2 linked regions of the Homo sapiens genome follow. The protein of the gene in region 2 purifies or fractionates together with the protein of the main gene of each other region. This does not show direct contact. Each region holds a gene or a part of one and is shown on either strand. Other genes may lie near its edges.

The links. The genes of interacting proteins can lie anywhere in the genome.
Region 1: the proteins of SPRED2 (region 2) and GNG5 purify together in Homo sapiens (affinity purification with mass spectrometry; 2 studies listed by BioGRID and IntAct, with this or other methods). This does not show direct contact.

What each region holds. Positions count from the first base shown.
Region 1 is NC_000001.11:84,503,577-84,511,256, reverse strand, and holds the start of GNG5 (guanine nucleotide-binding protein G(I)/G(S)/G(O) subunit gamma-5), read left to right. Parts: upstream 1-4,675; 5' UTR 4,676-4,821; intron 4,822-4,838; exon of another isoform or gene 4,839-4,871; intron 4,872-4,955; 5' UTR 4,956-5,165; coding exon 5,166-5,246; intron 5,247-7,680. UniProt on the Homo sapiens protein: Guanine nucleotide-binding proteins (G proteins) are involved as a modulator or transducer in various transmembrane signaling systems.
Region 2 is NC_000002.12:65,310,585-65,317,605, forward strand, and holds the end of SPRED2 (sprouty-related, EVH1 domain-containing protein 2), read right to left. Parts: intron 6,300-7,021; coding exon 6,150-6,299; intron 3,586-6,149; coding exon 2,917-3,585; 3' UTR 267-2,916; downstream 1-266. UniProt on the Homo sapiens protein: Negatively regulates Ras signaling pathways and downstream activation of MAP kinases. Recruits and translocates NF1 to the cell membrane, thereby enabling NF1-dependent hydrolysis of active GTP-bound Ras to inactive GDP-bound Ras.

The sequences.
Region 1 (7,680 bases), on a different chromosome or scaffold from region 2:
CATGAAATATTTTGATACAGGCATACAATGTGTGAAAAGCACATCAGGGTAAATAGGGTATACATGACCTCAAGCATTTATTGTTTGTTTTACAAAAAATCCAATTATACTCTTATTTTAAAATGTATAATAAATTATTGTTGGCTATAATCACCCTTTTGTGCTATCAAATACTAGATTTTATTCACTTTATCTAACTTATATTTCTGTACCCATTAACCATCCCCAGTCCCCACCCCACTACCCTTCCCAGCCTCTGGTAACCATCATTCTACTATCTCCATGAGTTCAACTGTTTCAATTTTTACTGCCAAATAAGTGAGAACATGTGAGGTTTGTGTTTCTGTGTCTGGCTTTTTCACTTAACATAATGACATCCAGTTCTATCCATGTTGTTGCAAATGAGATGATCTCATTCTTTTTTATGGCGGAACGGTACTCCATTGTTTATTTGTACCACATTTTCTTTACTCATTCATTCATCTGTTGATAGACACTTAGGTTGCTTTTAAATCTTGGCTATTGTGAATAGTGCTGCAGTAAACAAGGGAGTGCTGATACCTCGATATACTGGTTTCTTTTCTTTTGGGTCTATAGCTAGCAGTGGGATTCCTGGGACATACTGAAGCTCTATTTTTAGTTTTTTCTGAGGAACCTCCAAGTTGGTCTCCATAGTGGTGGTACTAATTTACATTCTCACCAACAGTGTACAAGAGTTCCCTTTTCTCCACATCCTCACCAGCATTTGTTATTGTCTATCTTTTGCATAAAAGCCACTTTAATTGGGGAGAGATGATATCTCATTGTAGTTTTGATTTGCATTTCTCCTGATGATCGGTGATGTTGAATACCTTTTCATATACCTGTTTGCCATTTGTAAGTCTTCTTTTGAAAAATGTTTACTCAGCTTTTTTGCCCATTTTTAAAGCGGGTTATTAGATTTTTTTCCTATATAGTTGAGCTCCTTATATATTCTGGTTATAAATCCTTTATCAGATGGATAGTTTGCAAATATTTCTTCCCATTCTGTGAGTTGTCTCTTCACTTTGCTGATTATTTCCTTTGTAATGCAGGTTTTTATTTTTATTTTTTGAGACAGGGCTTCTCTGTTGCCCATGCTGGAGTGCAGTGGCATGATCACAGCTCACTGCAGCCTTGACCTCTGCAGGTTCCCAAGTAGCTGGGACCACAGGTACATGCCACCATGTCCAGCTTTTTGTATTTTTGTCAAGATGGGGTTTTGACTTTGCCATGTTGCCCAGGCTGTTATACAACTCCTGGGTTCGAGAAATCTACCTGCTTCAGCCTCCCAAAGTGCTGGGATTACAAGCGTAAGCCACCGTGCCTGGCCCTGTGCAGGTTTTTAACTTGATGTAATCCCATTCGTTCATTTTTGCTTTGGTTGCCTGTGCTTGTAGGGCATTATTCAAAAAATCTTTACCCAATCCAATGTCCTGGAAAGTTTCTGCACTGTTTTCTTTTCTTTTTTTGAGAGATGGGTCTCACTCTGTCACCCCGGCTGGAGTGCAATGGCGTGATCTCCGCTTACTGCAATCTCTGCCTCCCGGATTCAAGTGATTCTCCTGCCTCAGCTTCCCAAGTAGCTGCGACTACAGGCATGTGCCACTACGCCCAGCTAATTTTTGTATTCTTAGTAGAGACAGGATTTCACTATATGTTGGCCAGGCTGGCCTGAAACTCCTGACCTCAGGTGATCCACCTGCCTCGGCCTCCCAAAGTGCTGGGATTACAGGTGTAAGCCACCATGCCCCAACTCCAATGTTTTCTTATAGACGTTTCATAGTTTGAGGTCTTAGATTTAAGTCTTTAACCCATTTTGATTTGATTTTGGTATACGAGGAGAGAGACATCTAGCTTCATTCTTCTAATACGGATATTCAGTTTTCCCAGCACCATTTATTGGAGGGACTGTCCTTTCTCCAATGTATGTTCTTGGCACCTTCGTAAAAAACGAGTTCACTGTAGGTGAATGAATTTGTTTCTGGGTTCTCTATTCTGTTCTACTGGTCTATGTTTTTTTTTTTTTTATGCCAGTACCATGCTGTTTTGGTTACTATAGCTCTGTTGTATAATTTGAGGTCAGGTAACATGATTCCTCCATTTTTATTCTTTTGGCTCAGGGTAACTTTGGTGACTCTGGGTCTTTTATGGTTCTGTATAAGTTTTAGGATTGTTTTTAATACTTCTGTGAAGAATGTCATTGGTATTTTGATAGAGATTGCACTGAATCTGTAGATTGCTTTGGGTATTAGAGACATTTTAACTATATTGAATCTTCCAATACATGAACATGGAGTATCTTCCCATTTTTTTTGTGTCCTCTTCAATTTCTTGCATCAGTGTTTTATGGTTTTCTTTGTACAGATCTTTAACTTCCTTGGTTAATTCCTAAGTATTTTATTTGTAGCTATTGTATATATTTTTTTCTCCAAACTTCAATTTCCTTAGCCATTATAAAAACAGAATAAGCTCATTCTTTGAGAAAGAAGTCAGAATTGTGAAATCCCCCTTTGAAGAGATTCAGCTTTTAGTTAAAGTACAAAGTACAGCATGTGACTCTTATTTATTCAAATTCTGAATTTAGACCTAGTGAACTAAAGAACTTAGGGTACTAATTAATTGAATACGGTGAAGATCTCAGGTAAATTTAAATTGACAGTGCTCTGCTGACAAAACATAAAGTGACAGATTACTTGGTGGTCTTTTCTTGGCATTTATTGCTAAAAGAATCCTCTTGGTGACAACAGGCCAGTCTTCAACCAACTGAACAGTGAGCATCTATGTCTGTACAGTTGGTAACATGTTTGAAATGTCTTAGATCATTGTGGAAGGTCAAAGAACATCTAAACAAAAGTTTAAGAGATACAGATAGTTCATAAACTATATTTACTGGTAATCACTTCAGATGCAACTGAACTTAAAGTTATCTCAATGGTTTTGTTTTTTTTTTTTTGAGACGGAGTCTCACTCTGTCGCCAGGCTGGAGTGCAGTGGTGCCATCTCGGCTCACTGCAACCTCTGCCTCCCAGGTTCAAGCGAATCTCCTGCATCAAGCCTCCTGGGCAGCTGGGACTCCTGGGTGGCGCGCACCACCACGCCCAGCTAATTTTTGTATTTTTTAGTAGAGACGGTTTCCCCACGTTGGCCAGGATGGTCTCGATCTCTTGACCTCGTGATCTGCTCGCCTCAGCCTGCTAAAGTGCTGGGATTACAGGCGTGAGCCACCATACCAGGCCTCAATGTTTTATTTTTCTTTTGTATCCTAAATAGAATCTTTAAACACACGCTACAAAAAAATAACACCTGGTGTTTGAGACAGCACTCCAGTCTGTGGTTTCCCAATGCAGCAGTTAATAAAAAAGCAACAATTTTTTTTTTTTCTGAAACTGTTTCGGCCTAAAACACTGCTTATTCCTCAACAGTCTCCCTCACAGAAGTAATTATTGGACCATATATTCCCTAAAATCTCTTCCAGCATTAACATACCACGGTTCTAAGAGTTCAGTGATATATTTTACAACTACTGTAAAACAGATCATTCTTTGAATAGATACTTGTGTTTAATCTTACAAATCTGTAAAGTATGAATGACGTTTTAGCATTATACAGTCAACAAAGCACCAAAGGTGAAATAATTACAATACCTTTTGGGAAAAGACAATATTTATTGAGATAGCTTTCACATTCTTTTTACATATAATGTCATTTCATTCCGAAAAACAACTCTACGAAGCTGTATAATTTACTTTGAAATAAGGAAATAAAGCCTCAGTAACTTAAGTGGCTTGCCCAAGAATACCGTAAGTAGCAGAGCCAGAATTCAAACCCTGGTTTTAACCCCAATCATTACATCCGTATGAATTAAGTAAAATGCTAAACTTACGATGTACATTTTTGCGAACTGATATAAACTGTTGAGTAAATAAATTAGATTTTGTTGACCAGTGCAATTACACATGCTTCCCTAATAAAAAATTTGAAATCCATTAATGATAAAATTATTAACATTAATGGAAAACATCAGCGCATTCGGAGATTGACTACCCGAAAAGAAATAGGAAACATCTGCCCTTAGTGCTGTGACATAACACACATATTTCCGTGGATGAAAGAAAGACCTACTGGCTGAGCCTATTTTGTTTGGTTAGACCCTACCCTCTCTCCTAAAAACTCCTTTGGTACTCAATTTCAAGCAGGAGGTAATAAATTACAACGGAAATACTAAAGAGCAAACTTTCCGGAAACACAAAAATAAGTTTTATTTTAAAAAGTACAATAAGCATTAATTCTCCAGAGTAAATGGGTAACCGAGCAGACAGGTGTAATCTTCAGCCAGCACCTTGGCTTCTTCACAATCTCCTTCAGAAAAACCGATTCAAGAGCTAAGAAGCCAGTAAAGTCAAACCTCGAGAAGATCCCTTCTCCAGCGAATCAGCGCCCCTGCTCCCCGCCCGCCCGGCTCCGCTGGGTACGCGACAGCGACCTCCGCGCCTGCTCTCCGCCTCGGGTCAGCGGGGCTGGGGGTTGGGGGTGGAACTGAAAATGCCTGTTGGCCAAACTCGGGTCACAGAGAGACACGCCTGTACGGGGCGGGGGTGTGCGGGTGACTCACGCCGGGTGCACAGTAGCTCCTACGCCTCACCCAGTATCTCCCCTCACTTCCCTCAACCCTTCCCACAAACTGGGAGGAAAACTGAGACCTCCTGGTCACCCGCCGCCGGGCCTTTTAGAAACTCCCACAAGCTCTGCCTTCCCTCCCTGGTCCTCTTCAGACCCCCTCTTAGTTCTTCGCGGCTAACGGTAAGCTCTCTCCTTACCTCTCCCTAATCGGCCCCTCTGGAGAGGAAAAGAAAACTTAAGAGTCGGGTCGCGCTAGCCTCCAGCAGCCGCCGCGCCCACCGACTGCTCCGCCCCTTCTCCTCCCCCTCCTCCAGGCTCGCGCTCGGGGCCGGGTGTGGAGCTGGAACAGAGGGCTGGCAAGGCGCGCATGCGCACCGAGGGTGGAGCCGCTGAGCACAGAACCGGAAACTTAGAGACAAAGTTCGGAGCCCCGCCCCCGCCGCGCGCCGCTGAGTTGTCTGGCCCCGCCGACCCACGGCCCACGACCCACCGACCCACGAATCGGCCCGGCCGTCGCGTGCACCATGTCTGGCTCCTCCAGCGTCGCCGCTATGAAGAAAGTGGTTCAACAGCTCCGGCTGGAGGCCGGACTCAACCGCGTAAAAGTGAGCGGGGGCGGGCGGCCGAGGCGGGAGGAAGGCGGCGGCGGCGGGTGGGATCCGGCGGCCCAGCTGGCGGGGGCGGGCGGGACACGCGCCGGCCCTCGCTTCCCCTGGAGAGGACGCGCGCTCAGCGGCGGCGATCGGGGAGCGGCCAGCTTTAGAGCAGGCGCCGCGTGGGTCTACGCTGTGTTTTAGGGGGACGATTAGTTCGCCCTTCCGCCCCAGGACTTTCCGAGGCGGGCTGGCCCCTGGGTTGAACCGTGGCCGACATTCCGGTCCTCCTCCGTCTCTACCTCCCTTGGCAGCCTTCTCGGCTGGTCTCACCAACAGCTGCGCCTCCGCGCGCTGTCCGCACCCTTCCTTTCCCACTTTGCCAGCCTCCTGTTTCTCATCGGACAGGGTATTTTCCGACTTTTGATTCAGAGCAGACTTTTCTCCCATTTGATCTTTCCCAAACCTACTTCCTTTAGTATTAAATTCTTACCTTCAACTTCTCTTGTCCGTTGAACACATACTTTTAAGCGAATTATTGCATAACTTAAACTGTGGATTGAATAAGCATTTTTCGAAACGATCCTGGAGTGTAAAGTTCCGGTCAGTGCCCCGTACAACCTCGAACAAAGCGTGCATTTCATACCTATGGCACAGTTTGCTCATATTTGACCTTGGGGATATCGACTGGTCCGCATGCCGGAGAAAATGATTATTGTGGGTAATTATTGGTCTTATTTTGGCGTCTGGTTAGTATTGGCCTTGTCTTGGGGTACTTTGGGAGAAAAAGCCTTTTGTCTGTGTTGATAGAATAACTTGACATTCAAGTGCTGTTCTAAGTATTTCCTGATTTTTACAGTCCTAAATGGATTGGCTTCTTTCTGGTACAATAGGTCAGGCTACATGTGAAACACTTCTGCAGTTAAAAAAAGAAACAAGAATGTAAATCATGTGCCCTGTTAAAAGCAGCCAGTTCCTAAGATGATTTGATTTTATACTCATCAGGCTAGTCTTTATTACTTGCCGAAATGTTTTGTGAACTGAGAGGGTCTCTAAGCTTTCTTAACTAGAAGTGTCAGAGACCTAGCTTACTCAGTTGTGGTCACCTCAGAAGGGAAGGGAAATTCTCATTCGTCTTGGTGCAGGATCCTCCTGAGAGAGAGTCTCCCATTTAGTTTTGTTAACTAGAAATGTCAGGGACCTAGCTTACTCAGTTGTGGTCAACTCAGAAGGGAAGGGAATTCTCATTCGTCTTGGTGTGGGATCCCCCTCACGTCCAGTCCTTGAAATGCTGTAGACCTCACTGCAGTTTGGAATCCATTTCTCTACTCTCCCAATTCTTACCTCATCACAGTGGTTTCTAGTCAGTCTTGGCTGGATTTGGCTCTGAAACTCGAAATCATTTATTTCGTAACCATTAAATGTCATTCAGGTGTGCCTTTATCATAGATAGGATGGACCAAGAAAAAAAAATGGGGGTGGGATAGTGAAAGCAATAAATTGTACATCTTTAGTCTCCAAAGAAAATGACATGAGGTTCTCAGGCTAAAATACTCCAAGAGCTTTACTTTGAAAACCCTAGCTGCTGCTCCCCTAATTCCCCAAAACTGATCCTACCTAAATCTTCAGTAGACTTCTGGTTCTGGTCGGGATCATTAAAGGCACCAGACATGATTTGGTTTTGGAGTTATTGCCTGATGTTAAGGCTGTAGCAAGAAGGGGAGCATCCCCTTTTGTACTTTTTAATGAGCTTTTCTTTAGACATGTTGCTAAATGTGGTTTAACGTTGTGTATCTGTTTTATCAATGACTGGGCTAGGTGATTTTTTTGTGAGATTTTTAAACTAGCACAATCTTACTTTTAACCTTTATGTGTGAGTACAATTGATAGAACTTACCATAAGTGCTTGACAAACTGTCATAGGTAGGTCAGGACATTTTTGAGAGTGAGAAGGGGCACTAATAGGCCAGGATTACAGGGTTTCAACCTCCTGGATGGTGATTGTTACAGTGCCTTAGGGGCTAGCAGCTTGTTCCAGTTTTAGAGTCTTTGTCTCAGCTTTCCTCACTGTTTGGAATGCTGTTTCTCACTGATGGTTATTTGGCTGGATCTCTTGTCATTGAGATCTCAGCTTCAATGTCACCTCAGACACCTTCCCTTAGGTGGGCACCCAGTCACCATCTAAAAGATTATTCATTTTACTACAGAGCACCTTGTCTGTCATTTTCTCTGAACTGTTAGCTCCATAACAACAGGGCTCTGGCTGTTCTTATGTATTCTTAGTGCCTGTAAGTATATGCGGCACATAGTGGTGCTTGAAAATTGTGAAAGCGAGTTACATTGGACCCCACCTACACTTTAAACAGAAAATTAACAGGTACTCTTTATGCTTCCTGCTGGTTAATATGAATGAAAACACTAAACACTATTACAATATTTGGTGAAA
Region 2 (7,021 bases):
GGAAGCCAGGCCTAGGAAGAGGGGGTGTTCCTGGGCGGTGGCCTGCAGCCTTCCTTTCACTGAGGCATCCGAGCCCAAGGAGCTGCAGTCTCCCCTTGGGAATATGACATAACCATAGGAGGAAAGGGCCTTGAAAAAACAGACCGGTGTCCACATGTCCTTCGGCACAGGAAGCCCTGTCCCATCCTGTATGCGGGAACTCCAAGATCTGCCAACGCTCTAGCATCACCTCGTCTCCTGCCAGACAAATACCCCAAAGCCAGCGATCTGATAGGATGTGTTTATATTTACACGGTACATTTTAAAGCAATGGCTACATTGGTCATACATATTAGAAACCATAAAAAAAAGTTAAGAACTAAAATGTACATCATACACTTGTATATATATTTTTTACACAGAGGTAAAAAGGCTTATTATAAAAAAATCAATACAACAGGGTTTTTAGTATACAGGTAAAGAATGAATTATGCTTCAGGCACTTTAATTTGTTAATGTGAGCAAATAGCTTGGGGGGTCGGGGAGGCTTCTGGACAGAAAATCTTTTGGTTAATGTTTTGTTACCACAGATACAAAAATAAAATCTGAATAATTTCTCTCAAATGATTGACGTCAGTATGGCAAAGCTGACTGGGAAAATACTACACACTGTTCAGCTGCAGTGTGGCAATTAGAGACGTATTTACATAAATGTCCCCATGGCTGTCTTTGTGCCCTTAACCGATGCCTTCACAAACCAAAAAGTATACGTGGAGTAAGATCTGCTAGCGTAACTCTTAAAAGGGTGGAAAAGGACAAGGGGTGAAAGAAGAGAGAAACAGGTAACAACTAAATAGAGGTGACAAACAAAAAACAGCTGGGATATGTGCGTTCTTATTGAAATAAATAGGGGCACTTGAACTGAGGTCTAAGGAAACGAACATTAGTGTTGTGCTTTGTAGAGAAGAGACCCTAGAGAAAGACCCCAAGGAAGTGCCTCCGGGTCGGGGGAAGGTGGTCTCTCGACAGCACTGGAGGCTGGCTGAAGGTTTTCTAGATGTTCTCCAGGCATGGATGAGGTTCTCTTTTCTTCCATCAATCCAGATGGACAGCTCTCTGCTCCTTTTCCAAACTGGAAAGCCTAAACCAGTTACTCCAATGAATGAAGACGTCTACTAACTGACTCATAAGCACACTGGGTATTTACACCGGTAATCTACTAAAGAAAATCGATGAGCTTGTGGACGAGCTGGAAACAGCCCCATGAAGGTGAGCACAGCTAGCACTTTCCCAATATGATTGGCAGACTGGAAAAAAGTCCCTTTCCTTGAAGACTGGTGTCCTGTGTGCAATAAAGAAGGAGTGGGGAAAGGGAGTGGGGAGCAGGCCATGTCTTCTGCTGGCCGCTACCACAGAAAGATCGTGGCGGGAAGAACAGCCGGCGTCCGCAAGCCTGTCCCCGGTGGTCTCCACGAGGTTCTGATTGTACTATGCTAGGTATAGGTAACCACTCTTCACTTTTCTTCTTTCTTCAATAAGAAGATTTGGCTAATCCTTGCAACGTATTAGAAAAATACTCTTTTCCAGCTAATTAGAAGCCTCCTCCGTGGCAAGGCGACAGGCAGAACCAGTTGGCTGACCTAACCACCTGTGCACCCAAAGTGGCGAGTCTGGGTTTGGAGTTGCAGGAGAAAGACACTTAGGCATTGGAAGGGTTTTTACATATGGCCTTGTTTTTTCCCCAAGTATAAATGAGGAATTTGGTGATGTGAAATTGAGTCCAAAATGAAACGAAAACATAAACCCATGAAGAAAATGCAACCCACCACTCTTCAAATTTATGACATTTAAAAATCCCCTCTCCCCATTAATATAAAATAGCCAGGGGTTGGGGGGAAGAAGCTCCCTATGGTTTTATTCACCATAACCTTAGTGTTTCTCAACTGGAACTTGTTCGTGGGAACACTGATTTGTGTTTGAGGAAACTATTTGGTTTGCAAAACAACAAGCAAAATTTCTTACTTCACTAGTATCCTATTCTAATATTGCTAAATTTTTAGAAGTGGTGGCAACACAATTTAAAAAATGTTCTACTTTAGGGGTAATGGGGAGGCTCATAGAAACCTGAAATCCCCATTCTAGCCCTGGTCCAAGAGGATGCAATGCAGTTGAAGGAATTTTCCTGATTCTCACAAGTTAATCTGAAGTTAAGGCTCAATTCTCAGTCTATTACGGGTGAATGTTTTGCATCAGTGAATCATTTCAACAGATTTTGGGGGGGCAGAAAATGATGATGGGCTAAAGATAGAAACTGCAGCTTACATGGGAAATTTGGCTTTAGAAAAGTTAAAGCGATATTGTTTTGTGGTACAAGTTTGTTAACTAGCTCACCTCCTATACATAATAACTGACTGCAGGCTGAGATACTTCTGTCGGGTTTCATCATTCTCACATCCCATTTCCGCTGAACCAGATGCTTGCTAGCGACAGGCAAGGTGAACCAAGAGAAAGAGAGTCTTCGACGCTCTTGGAAAAATCAACTACAAAACCCACCGAAAATCAGCAGTTCCAATTGCAGACTCCTTTGAACTGGAAGAGGCGGGGGAGGAGGAAACAGGAAATCAACACATGGATGAGACAGTTAGCTTGGTTACAGATTGTTAATAGTACAGGAGTCTGTGGCGAAGGTTCCTTCCTCAGAACACTGTGCGAGCGTGTGTGTATGGATGTGGCTGCTGCAGTGTGGGCGGCAGGGGGAGTGGAGAGTCTACCCGGCAGCGTCCCTGGCTGGAATGGTGCCTCGAGGTACCAGGGAGCTGGGAGGCCGCTTGCCCTCCTCGCTCCTTGGAGTGGAAGGGAGCGGGGGAGAAGATGAGAGTATGTAAGAGACGAGTTCCCCTGTGGCTGCGGATGGAGGGAGAAGGGAGGGAAACTGAGTCACGCGGCCGCTTTGTGCTTCCCGCCACAGCACCTGCACATCACTCCGCAGTGGTAGCAGGCCCGAAGGGGCAGGTAACAGCACATACAGGGGGCCAGGAAAGACAAGGCAATAAGAGCCATCCACCGGAGGCAAAACTTCTCGTCGCTAGTATCGCACGAGCAAGGGTCTGTATAGTCTCCCTCGGGGTCCGACATACAGTGATAGAGCATGCTGTCCGCGCACCACATGCAGCTCACCCGGCGGATGCAAGTTCTCACGGAGTCGGGCGCGTCCTGGCAGTGGCCCCGGCGGTTCTCCTCGTGGTTGAACATGTCCCTGCAGTACACGCACCGCGAGCGCTCTCCGTCCTCCTTCCGCCGCCGCGACTTGCCCCGGGAGGGCTGCGTCTTGATCACGCTGCCCCCGCGGCCTTTGGGGTCCTCGCCTAGGCCAAAGTCTGAGGAGTCCACGTAGGGGTAGTTGTAGTCATGCTTGGGGACCTCGCCCTTGGCGAAGCGCACGTAGGAGGAGTCCGCGTCCTCCGAGGGGTCCGGGTACTTGCCCCTGACGGGTGCGTGCCGGTAATCCTCGTACCCCGTCATCCAGATCTTCTCCCGGGGGTTGATGCGCACGATCTCCTCGTCGTCGTCCGGGAAGCTCACCTGGCGGTAGGGCCTTGGCATCGGCTGTCCCGTAGGAGAGGAGACATTATTTTACAGCAGCGGCCAAAAAACAAACAAACAAAAAAACACCCCACCTTCTCCCTCCCTAGCCGTCCAAAATGCACCTTTCTCGATAACTCCATCACGATGCTCCGTGAAGAAACAGACCCTTCCTGAAATTACTGAATATCCTGTCGCCCAGTCAGAGATGTATTTCAAATAGAGTCTCAATCCATTAATGGGCCAGGAAATCAATTTCGTGGGTTGAGACCGGCAGTATTTTCCCTTTCTGGTGACGCACTGCCATACAGGCAGGGGAGTGTGCACATGGCAAGGGCACAGTGTGATGCGTTCTCAGGAGCATGGCACACTCAGATCAAGAGGCAGAACAGGACCTGTGCCCCAGAGTATCTTCCGCCTCCCTCAGGGATCTCCTAGCCCCAGTGTGAGGGCTACACTCACTTCTAAAGGCCTGCATTAGTTTTGCCTATTTTTGTATGGTATGTTCTCTTTTGTAAGGCTGGCTTTTTAAAAATTGAAATAGAATAAGGACACTGGAGTGCAATACATGTGAGAAGGTAAGTCCTGTTTTACGAAACTTCATTATCCATATGTGCACAATATGTCCACAAAGGATCACAATAGGAGATGCATTTCTCCCTGTGGGTGTCTCCTTCAAGAGACAGGGGACACTAGGAAACAGTAGCTCACCATGTCATCTGGTGAGATGCGGACAGGAGAAGGATAGAGTGAAGGCTCCGGAAACTGAAGTTTCACTCCTGCCAGGATCTCACAAATAGTGAGTGGCCAGACCAAGAGCCACACCCTCTAGAAACCTGCAAATCTAAGCTGCATTCTCCCTCAGGGTGGAAGAGGCTTTTCTCTGCAGTTAGTCCTGCTACAGGCTGCAACCCTGCCTTGTCCAGAGCAGCAGACACTGAATAAATATTTATTAATTACATGCATATAACCCTGGCTCACCCAGGGCCTCTCAGTGGAGGCAGAGAACTGAGACTTCTTGCTTTCGAAGTCCTTTGGGCATGAAGGTTTTTCAGGGGTTGAGGAACGTGGCTCTGGAGTGACTCACTGCAGTCAAATGCTGACATTTTCTAGCTAGTACCTAAGACTCAGGTTCCATTTCTGTCGAACTGCATAGGACTGTTTTGAGAATGAAGAGAAACAATCTACAGAGGGTGTCAGCTCACAGCCTTGCTCACAGGATGCACTTGATAACTCTCGCCATCACAGTCATTATCATATTGTTACGGACTTGATCATGCGCTTATTAGATTTACCCATCACTTCCTACCAGAGGGCAGGGCCATGTCCCACACATTTTACCTTAATTCCTGTCAAATTCTTGGTATCAGAGTTGCCTAGATTTTTGAAAATCATGATTTCAGAAGGATTTCAAAACAAATCTCGGAAACTGACACGGGCTTTACTAATTCTTTATTTTGGACAGTAAGGAAAGTAAAAAAGTTAATTTCCATCTACTGCTAGCATAATGTGATATTTATTTATTTATTTATTTTTTGAGATGGAGTCTTGCTCTGTTGCGATGACGCAATGGCGCAATCTTGGCTCACTGCAAGCTCCACCTCCTGGGTTCACGCCATTGTCCTGCTTCAGCCTCCCGAGTAGCTGGGACTACAGGCGCCCGCCACCACACCCAGCTAATTTTTTGTATTTTTAGTAGACACGGGGTTTCACCGTGTTAACCAGGATGGTCTCAATCTCCTGACCTTGTGATCCACCTGCCTCGGCCTCCCAAAGGGCTGGGATTACAGGCATGAGCCACTGCACCTGGCCAATAATGTGATTTTTAAATAGGACATTTTAATCCCAAAATATTAGGAAGCACAATCTAAAATAATTTTTTTAAAAAGAGTCAAATAAATCTAGTTTTATGTTTAAAAACAAAACAAAACAACTCACTGCCCTTTTTTCTCATTTCAAAGCAGCCTAGTGGCCACAGCACCCCACACAGGCACCAGTCCATGCCCCATGATTTGGGAACTTGCTCTGCAAAGCAGCCACTTGGTAAATATTTGTTGAACTACCGAATTCTGAGCTCCAGCTACATCCGCCTGAGCAAGACTGGGCCTGTAGCCTGTAAGGCTGGGGGCTCGAGCCAAGTGTGCAGCATTCCTTAGTCCTGATTGTGGCTCTGGGCTTCCACACAAAGCTGGGAGGCCCTTTGGACAGAGGAATGCAGGACGCAGTGTAGCCCCCTGGGTGAGAACAGGCTTGGATTTGAATCTCGTTCCATCAGATACTCCACCTCTCTAAGCCTCAGCTTCCTCATCGATAACCTGGGGAGGCTGAAGACTTGCCTTGTGGGGCAGTTTCTGAGGATTAAACCACATAAAGCATATAAAGGGTCTGGCAAGGTGTCTGGCACACAGAAAACACTGGATGAGGCTGAGGTGCCACCACCAATGCCACTTTCAATATGAAGTGGGGGTAAAGGCAGGAGCAGGAGAGGCCTGTGGTCATGGAATTTGGCTGAATAGGAGGGGAAAGAGGCCATTCCAGAATCAGAGGCACCACCCTGATGCCCTCAGAGGAACAGGGCTGCTGCTCACCTGATCGAGGTGATAGTGGTCTGTGGGGTATGAGTCGTGGAGGTGGCCCAGGGTATAAATCCTCCGGTGCTCACAGGATGTGGGAGAGGAGATTGTCCGAGTAGGTTGCTCTCTCTTCTGAGAGGAATTAGAAGAACTGTCTGTAGCTGTCTGTGTAGAGGGAGGTAACCAAGAGTCAATTTAAAAACAACAACAAAAACCCCACGCAGCAAACCCTGACATGCACTATTCAAATACTAGCTATTCCCTGGTTGTGGCAATTTGCTGCTCTTCCCAAAATCTTGAGTTTGTCTTGGCTACAACAGGAGGACCCCTGAATGGCCAGATTGTCTAAACACAATGTGGCTGGTTCAACAGGCAGAGAAGCCCAGCCACCAGACCCTGGAAAGGTAGGTTTTTCTTAAATGCGGGAATAGTGACTGGGTGCGGGGGGAAAGGCTGGATATACCAGGCTCCCCAAAGGTTTGTGTTCTAGTTTGATCAAGAATGGTTACCCTGGCCAGGCGCGGGGGCTCATGCCTGTAATCCCAGCACTTTGGGAGGCCAAGGCGGGCGGATCACCTGAGGTAAGGAGTTCAAGAGCAGCCTGGCCAATATGGCAAAACCCTGTCTCTACTAAAAATACAAAAATTAGGCAGGCATGGTGGCAGGTGCCTATAATCCCAGCTACTCGGGAGGCTGAAGCAGGAGAATTGTTTGAACCCGGGAAGCGGAGGCTGCAGTGAGCCAAGACTGAGCCACTGTACTCCAGCCTGGGTGACAGAGCAAGACTCCATCTCAAACAACAACAACAACAACAACAACAACAACAACAACAACAACAACAAAAACAAAACATAAATAAAAGAATGGTTATCCCATCTGTGGCCCTG